Linked DNA regions of Homo sapiens: region 1 is linked to region 2. The links come from fine-mapping of genetic effects on gene expression. A gene starts in region 2. The other region holds a variant in brackets. All regions are shown on one strand. Distances are from middle to middle. Region 1 overlaps TIMELESS (timeless circadian regulator). Region 2 holds the start of TIMELESS (timeless circadian regulator).

What was found. PIP is the estimated chance that this variant, and not a neighbour inherited with it, causes the effect. A credible set is the group of variants that fine-mapping cannot tell apart.
Region 1: its variant is the best candidate, but not a certain one, in a credible set for the expression of TIMELESS in iPS cells (PhLiPS, PIP 0.89).

What each region holds. Positions count from the first base shown.
Region 1 is chr12:56,426,547-56,430,931 of GRCh38, reverse strand. TIMELESS (timeless circadian regulator) reads left to right here. Exons shown (of 29, transcript NM_003920.5): 9 at 1-51; 10 at 651-827; 11 at 1,832-2,049; 12 at 2,280-2,383; 13 at 2,527-2,696. Among named protein-coding and RNA genes, the nearest start is that of TIMELESS, 21 kb to the left of the region's middle. The variant A/T (reference allele first, on the strand shown) is at 2,338.
Region 2 is chr12:56,447,554-56,451,938 of GRCh38, reverse strand. TIMELESS (timeless circadian regulator) reads left to right here and starts at 2,513. Exons shown (of 29, transcript NM_003920.5): 1 at 2,513-2,629. MIP (major intrinsic protein of lens fiber) reads left to right here. Exons shown (of 4, transcript NM_012064.4): 4 at 474-2,437. The coding sequence ends at 659. RefSeq lists enhancers at 2,770-2,859, 2,970-3,089, 3,112-3,632.

The DNA.
Region 1 (4,385 bases), 21 kb after region 2:
TTGAAATCCATTGGGGAGAGGGACCTCATCTTTCACAAAGGCCTTCACAACGTGAGTATTCTTACATCTGGAGTGGGAACATAGTGGAGTTGCATAGCTTAAGCAGGGTAATCATCTTAAGAGTTCTTGGCTGTGCCTGGTGGCTCACACTTGTGGTCCCAGCACTTTGGGAGGCTGAGGCAGGAGGATTGCTTGAGCCCAGAAGTTCAAGATCAGACTGGGCAACATGGCAAGACCCTGTCTCTAAAAAAAAAATTAAATTAAAGGTTGGGTACAATGGCTCATGCCTGTAATCTTAACACTTTGAGAAGCTAAGGAAGGAGAATTGCTTGAGCCCAGGAGTTCGAGACCAGCCTGGGCAACATGGCAAAACCCTGTCCCTACAACAAGTGAAAAATACTAACTGAGCATGGTGGCACCCGCCTGTGGTCCTGACTACTCGGGAGGCTGAGGTGGGAGGATTCCTTGAGCCCAGGAGTTCAAGGCTCCAGTGTGCTATGATTGCATCATTACACTCCAGCCTGGGTGACAGAGCAAGTTCTTGTCTCAAAAGAAAAACAAAAATTAGTTTCTTCTGAGAAAATTGACGAGAGCTGCAAGGGGAAAGTGGTATTTAGGAGTAATTCTAATCCCCCAACCGACACACCCAGCTACGAAACTACAGTTCAGATTTGGGAAAGCAGCCGAAAAAGGTGCCTAAACGTCGCCAGGCCGCCCGAGAGCTGTCCATTCAGCGCCGTTCTGCCCTCAATGTGAGGCTCTTCCTCAGAGACTTCTGCTCTGAGTTCCTGGAGAACTGTTACAACCGGCTCATGGGATCAGTAAAGGTGAGAACCTGTGAAGGATATGGAGATAATCAGGAATGGAATAGACAGGTGATGATGCAGCTGTTGGTGGGTAAGAAGTGGGGAGGAGCTCGGGGAGGCTGCCCCTGGAATGTGGACTCGTAGGTGGGAAGGATATACAGTTAGGATGTCCCTGAGAGATAGTGAAAATGCCAGGAACGAGTGGGCTCCTGGCATGACAAAAGAGGCTCTGGAAAAATTGCCTCAGAGGGAGAGGAAAGGGAGAACAGGAGAGAGTTGGAAATTGTGGATCCTAGAGTATTATAGCGGTGTCCCGGCGTGGTGGCTCACACCTGTAATCCCAGCGCTTTGAGAGGCTGAGGCAGTGGATCACTTGAGGTCAGGAGTTCAAGACCAACCTGGCCAATATGGTGAAACCGTATCTCTACTAAAAAAAAAAATACAAAAAAAAAAAAAAATTAGCCGGCATGGTGGTGTGCATTTGTAGTCCCAGTTACTCAGGAGCCTGAGGCAGGATAATCACTTGAACCTGGGAGGCAGAGGTTGCAGTGAGCCGAGATCAGACCAGTGCACTCCAGCCTCATCATGACAGTGCAAGACTGTCAAAAAAAAAAAAAAAAAAAAAAAAGACCAGGCGCAGTGGCTCACGCCTGTAATACCAGCACTTTGGGAGTCCAAGGCAGGTGGATCACCTGAGGTCAGGAGTTTGAGACCAGCCTGCAACATGGTGAAACCCCATCTCTACTGAAAATACAAAAAATTAACTGGGCGTGGTGGCGGGCACCTATAATCCCAGCTACCCAGGAGGCTGAGGCAGGAGAATCGCTTGAACCCAGGAGGTGGAAGTTGCGGTGAGCCGAGATCATGCCATTGCACTCCAGCCTGGGCAATAGAGTGAGACTCCGCCTCAAAAAAAAAAAAATTATGACGGTGTCCAGCATCCATTCCATCATCATAGGACAGGAAGGAAGAAGTTGGAAGCCCTGGAGTCATGGTGATCTTTTTTTTTCTTTTTTAAATGTCAGGATCACCTGCTTCGGGAGAAAGCTCAGCAGCATGATGAGACCTATTATATGTGGGCCTTGGCTTTCTTCATGGCCTTCAACCGAGCTGCCTCCTTCCGGCCAGGCCTGGTTTCTGAGACCCTCAGTGTCCGTACCTTCCACTTCATTGAGCAGAACCTCACCAACTACTATGAGATGATGCTGACTGACCGCAAGGAAGCTGCCTCCTGGGCACGCCGGTGAGTGGGATGGTTACTGGAGATACAGTGAGCTAGGGATCTGAATGCTTGAATTCTGGCTGGTGCTTTTTTCCTGATTCAGGGTTCAGGTGATCAGTCTGGGGAGCAAGGACTGGCTGGGAAATTTAGTTTGGGTGGCACATTTTTTTTTTTCGCTGTGGGAAGTTGCTGTTTCCATGGGCCATTGCCCTAAGCTGTCCTCCATTTCACCGTTTCCCGTCAACTCTCAGGATGCACTTGGCTCTGAAGGCCTATCAGGAGCTGCTGGCAACAGTGAATGAGATGGAC[A/T]TATCTCCAGATGAGGCTGTGAGGGAGAGCAGCCGCATCATCAAGAGTGAGGCCCTGGCCTGGTCCCCGATCCCAGCCTGTCCCATCTCGTGATGAGAATCTCATTCTTCCCAGTCCCAGCTTCATCCATCTCTCCTTTTCAAGCTTTCCAGAATAGCCCTTCCATCCCTTTCTCTTCCCCATTCCTAGACAATATTTTCTATGTGATGGAGTACCGAGAACTATTCCTGGCACTTTTTCGAAAGTTTGATGAGAGATGCCAGCCCCGCTCTTTCCTTCGTGACCTGGTGGAGACCACCCACCTCTTCCTCAAAATGTTGGAGCGATTCTGTCGGAGCCGTGGGAACCTGGTGGTGCAGGTACTGGGCAGCCCCACAATGTAGAAAGAGCTGTAAGGGAGAGTCAAGGAAGGGGGGCTCTTTCTTCTCACAGTTTGTACAGCTTAAGTTCATCTGTTAAACGTGCTCTGAACTACGACAGCAAGAGGTTTGTGGGTGTTGGCCAGTGTGAGTCTACTACAGTTTCCTTCTCCCATTAGAATAATCTCTGATCTGCCATAAATATTTTAGTTCAGTCAGGAAACATTTATTGAACACCTACCACATGCCAAGTACAAAAACCCTGGGGATTCATAATTTTAGAGTCTAATAATTATGCTATAGCATTTTCTGGTTATACCTTGAAAGCATTGTGGTGAGGTGGAAAGAGCCTTAAATTGCGGCCAGGCATGGTGGCGCACACCTGTAATCCCCGCGCTTGAGGAGGCCAAGGTGGGCAGATTACTTGAGGTCAGGGGTTCAAGACCAGCCTGGCCAACATGGTGAAACCCCGTCTCTACTAAAAATACAAAAATTAGCCAGGCGTGTTGATGCACACCTGTAATCCCAGCTACTCAGAAGGCTGAGACAGAATCGCTTGAATCCAGGAGGTGGAGATTGCAGTGAGCCAAGATCATGTCACTGCACTCCAGACTGGGTGACACAGTGAGACTCTGTCTCAACAGCAACACAAAGAGAGCCTTAAATTGAACTTTAGAAAGTCTGGAATCTAGTCCTGTATTGGTTATTATTGGAATAAGCTCAAGCTGGTCGTGTCGGTCTCCAGATCCATAAAGTTGGGATTGTGACAGTTGTCCATGAACCCAAAGTGGAATCAGTGAAAAGCCTAGGACAGGCTGGGCACAGTGGCTCATGCCTGTAATCCCAGCACTTTGGGAGGCCACAGTGGGTGGATCATTTGAGGCCAGGAGTTTGAGACCAGCCTGGGCAACATGACAAAACTCCTTCTCTACTAAAAATACAAAAATTAGCTGGGTGTGATGGCACGCACCTGTAGTCCCAGCTATTTGGGAAGCTGAGGCACGAGAATTGCTTGAACCCATGAGGCAGAGGTTGCAGTAGGCCAAGATCATGCCACTGCACTCCAGTCTGGGCCACAGAGCAAGACTCTGTCTCAACAAAAAACAAAAACAATTCACCAGCATGGTGGCACATACCTGTAGTCCCAGCTGCTCAGGAGGCTGAAGCACGAGGATCACTGGAACTTAGGAGTTTGAGGATGCAGTGAGCTGTGATTGAGACATTGCACTCCAGTCTGGGTGAGACCAAGACCCTATCTCTGAAAAATAAAATTATTGGTTCACATTAAAATAAAAAAAACCCTGGGACAAAATGCAAACTCCAAGGAATTTGTATCCTGGAAACACAGAGACTTTGCTTTGTATAAACAGATTTTGGGCCAGGCGCGGTGGCTCATGCCTGTAATCCCAGCACTTTGGGAGGCTGAGGCGGGCAGATCACTTGAGGTCAGGAGTTCACGACCAGCCTGGCCAACATGGTGAAACCCTGTCTCTACTAAAAATACAAAAATTAGCCAGGCATGGTCATGCGCACCTGTAATCCCAGCTTCTTGGGAGGCTGAAGTGGGAGAATCACTTGAACCCGGGAGGCGGAGGTTGCAGTGAGCCAAGATCATGCCATTGCACTCCAGCCTGGGCAACAGAGCAAGACTCCGTCTCAAAAAACAAACAAACAAACAAAAATTAGCCT
Region 2 (4,385 bases):
TCCTGAGTAGCTGGGATTTCAGGCGCCTGCCACCACGCCCAGCTACTTTTTGTATTTTTAGTAGAGATGGGGTTTCTCCCTGTTGGTCAGGCTGTTCTCAAATGGCTGACCTTGTGATCCGCCCGTCTTGTGATCCGCCCGTCTCAGCCTCCCAAAGTGCTGGGATTACAGGCATAAGCCACTGCGCCTGTCCAAAAATATTTAATATGGTAAATTTTATATGTGTTTTACCACAATGTATAAAATTTTTTTGAAAGCAACATACAAACTAGTGCAAATTGATAACAAATAGAATATACACATGCTAAGGTGTGGGATAAAGGAGTAATTTGATGAATCAGAAAATAAATGGTGAGTTTATTGTAGATATCAAGTGTACAATATCTTGTTTTCCACTAAGGTGGCTGGAAAAAGAGCAGCGTTGCTACTCTGTCCCCTCCCCAAGCCTGAGTATTCCTTTTCTCTTTCTACAGGTGTACTGGGTAGGCCCAATCATTGGAGGGGGTCTGGGCAGCCTCCTGTACGACTTTCTTCTCTTCCCCCGGCTCAAGAGTATTTCTGAGAGACTGTCTGTCCTCAAGGGTGCCAAACCCGATGTCTCCAATGGACAACCAGAGGTCACAGGGGAACCTGTTGAACTGAACACCCAGGCCCTGTAGAAGCTCCAGCTGAATAGAGGGAGTAGAAAGCTTCTGAGTTTACGTGGAGGGGTTTAGCCAGCCCCTAGATGAAGAAAGAGACTGTGGGGAGGGTCATGTACTTCTTTATTTTTTAACTTATGTATGTGGTTGTTTTTTTTTTTTTTTTCCTTTTGCTGTGTGAAATCTTTCAAGTTGCATTCATGAGCTGGTTGGTGCAAACTTCCCTTCCTCCCCATCCCACCACCCTTCGCCGTGTGTGCTGATTGTGCATATGAATGTGAGTGTGGCTGTGTCTGAGTTTTGGGGCATGAGAGCTAAGGAAGCAAAAAGAGGTGCCATCCTATACCTCCCTTCCTCGACCCAGTATGGTGAGTACTGGGTAACCGACACCTTAAGTTTCTGGCCTTTACCCTGCTGCCAGTCAAGTGTGTGGCTCTTGATTTCTGAGGGAACAGAGAAGCAGGGAGTTACTCCTCACACGAGGCAGATGGAGAGAAGTGGAGGAGACAAGGCTTCCAAGGGTTAGGAGAAGGGACTCAAGGGAGGTGGGTGGTGAAAACGGAGTATTAGCCCCAGATCAGGATGTAGGTGTACCGAAGAATTGGGGGGAAGTTAATGGGAATATATAGCCTACTTATCTTAGGGATGCTTGCCCCAGGGACTTGGGTGGGGAAGTAGCTCTGAGAAAAGTGAACACTAGGATTTAGCTGTTCTGTAAAGCCACGTAAACCTGTCTACATCCGCTGGCTGGTTGTGTTCATTCTGACATAATGGATCTCTTCAGAGGTCCTGGGCCAAAGAGCTTCCAACCTAAATAGAGCTTGGGCAAGCCTAGAATCTAGAAAAATTAAGCAGCTTAACTGGTCAGCCTGACATCCACTGTTGTGGCTGCCTGGCAGATGGTATTTAAGCCCCACAATTGTTCCCTAAGGCCAACACAGGAAATCTGATTCCTGGAGCAAATAAATGAACGGGTGGTAGTAGGGGGCATGAGGGGAGAGGCTTTGACTCTGTTCTAATTTATTTAGAGCAAATCAAAACACTCCTCAAATGGCATCTTTCTGCTTTTATCACTAGTTCCGTGTTTTTTTTCTTGTTTTGTGTCTGTGTATTTTCATTTCTCTGTCATCCGTCCTTTCATCTTGAAGCAAATCTCTTCTAACTCCCTCATACCCCAGAAATTGATTCCTTCTATTCAAATGCTTAATAATTCAGGAGATTATTATTTGTTTGAGCCCTATCTTCTTTTTTTTTTTGAGAGGGGGTCTTACTATGTTGACCAGGTTGGAGTGCAATGGATATTCACAGGCACGATCATCGCACACTACAGTCTAGAAATCCTGGGCTCAAGCGATCTTCCTGCTTCAGCCTCCCCAGTAGCTGGGATTACAGGGGGCCAGAGCACAGCCCTATTTTCTTTTCCTTTTGGCAAGATCATCTCAGCAGAGGCCAGAAGAGACCCTCAACTGTTCAATGAATATTTACGGTTGCTTTCTTCCTTTTATGAGCCTCTTGCATACTTTGAAAGCTTTAAATTTATACCTATAATACAACGGACATCCCCTATCCCAGAAGACCATTCCTCCCTGTACTTCAGCTCTTTACTTCCTCCCAAATAAAACCTAACTTTTCTAACTAACTATTTAAGACTTGGAATAGTCCGCTTGACTAGAAGAAGGGGAAGAATGTTTGTAAATTCACCTCTAATCGGACTTTGATTCTACTATAATTCAGCAGAAAATTCATAGCGCTGTGATTTTTAGATCGACCTCACATAAAACAGTCCCTGCACTCGCTTCCCTTTTCCTTCCTTCTTCACCAATCTCCGCCCCAGTTCGCTCGGAGTCACGTGGACCAGCCCGGCTCGCCCCGCCTCGCTCTTCGCGCAGGCGGGGACCGGTCCAGCTGAGCCTGGTGGCGGAAAGGCTGCGGCCCCGCGCCAGAGGGCCGGTGGCTCCTCCGGGCTTCTGAGGACCCGCAGGGAGCGGGTGAGTGAGTGTGTGGCGAGAGGGCGCTAAGCGGACACGGGGATCCTTTCGAAGCTATGGGGGCATTCTCGGGAAACGCTGAGTCCCTTTTCCCGCCACCCGGTTTAGAGCCAGGGGGCGGGGCTCGTGCTGCAGGCGCGCACGCGCAATTCTGTACTCTGCTCCTTAGTCTCCCGCGCCGCGTTCCCGGGTCTCACCGGACGCGGGCTTAGCCCTACGCTGCTCCGCACAGCTTGGGTCTCCCGCGGGATGGGGTTGTGATGGAAAGGGGCTTGGAATTCCTGAATTAGAACAGAAAGTGCCTGAGGGAGTTCCACTTCGGAGCTTAGCATCTAGTTGAGACCTCCTGAAAAAAACCGGTGTGTGGCCTGGCGGTCAGCAGTGGTCGGAATTCACAGGCCGCTTTACTTATATCGTGGGTTTTATGGAACGGATTTCTCACTCCCTCCCTTCGTTGCCTTGTTCGGGTTTGTCACCTGGACCTCAGCCGCTAATGAAGCTTTTTTCCTTGAGCCTCTCAATTCTTTGCCATTCGTGCTTCGACTAGTACTTTCAATTTTTTATTTATTTTATTTTATTTTGAGACGGAGTCTCGTTCTGTCGCCCAGGATGGAGTGCAGTGGCGCCATCTCGGCTCACTGCAACCTCCGCCTCCCGGGTTCAAGCGATTCTCTTGCCTCAGCTTCCTGAGTAGCTGGGATTACAGGCGCGCGCCACCATGCCCGGCTAATTTTTGTATTTTTTTTAGTAGAGATGGGGGTTTCACCTTATTGGTCAGGATGATCTCAAACTCCTGACTTCGTGATCCGCCCGCCTCGGCCTCCCAAAGTGCTGGGATTATAGGCGTGAGCCACCGCGCCTGGCCTGTTTGTTTTTTTTGGTTGTTTTGTTTTGTTTTGTTTTTGAGATGGAGTCTGGCTCTGTCGCCCAGGCTGGAGTGCAGTGGTCCGATCTCGGCTCACTGCAACCTCCGCCTCCCCAGTTCAAGCGATTCTCCTGCCTCAGCCTCCCCAGGAGCTGGGATTACAGCTGCCCGCCACCACGCCCGGCTAATTTTTGTATTTTTAGTAGAGATGGGGTTTCACCATGTTGGCCAGGCCGGTCTCGAACTCCTGACCTCAAATGATCCGCCCGCGTCGGCCTCCCACAGTGCTGGGATTACGGGTGTGAGCCACCACACCCGGCCCTACTAGTACTTTGTACAAAGTAAAGGTAGATCATCTGATGTTAAATTTAAAACTCCTCTTTGACCACCCACAGTTAGCCTTAAATCCGTAGGTGGGTGTCTGTGGCCTCTCAGTCTGGCCCTGACCCTCTCAATCTCATTTTGTAAATCTCTTACGCACCTGACTCCTGGCCACGTGGAAAGATTGTGGCTGCCCTCTTTCATATCTCAGTACTTAGTTCCTGCTGTTCCTTCTGCTTGGAAGATCTTGACACTGCTCTGCCAAGCGAACTTCTCTTTGAAGACTGAGCTTAATTGTCCCTCTGAAAATCAATGTATCCAGCTTCCTATGCCAAGTTAGTCACTTCTTCCTGTGTGTCCCTGAAGTTTTTTACCCCCCTCTATTACCAGGGGCACTGATACAGCTCAATAAAAGATCAATAAAAGGTTACTGAGCTCCTAACATGTACCATGCACTGTGCTTAGCGCCAGGCTTACAGAGATGAGTAGGATGGAGAGTTCCCGACCCTTAAGGAACTCAAGTCCTAAGGAAAACACATGTAATTGAGTCTTCTGTGGTTACAGTGAAAG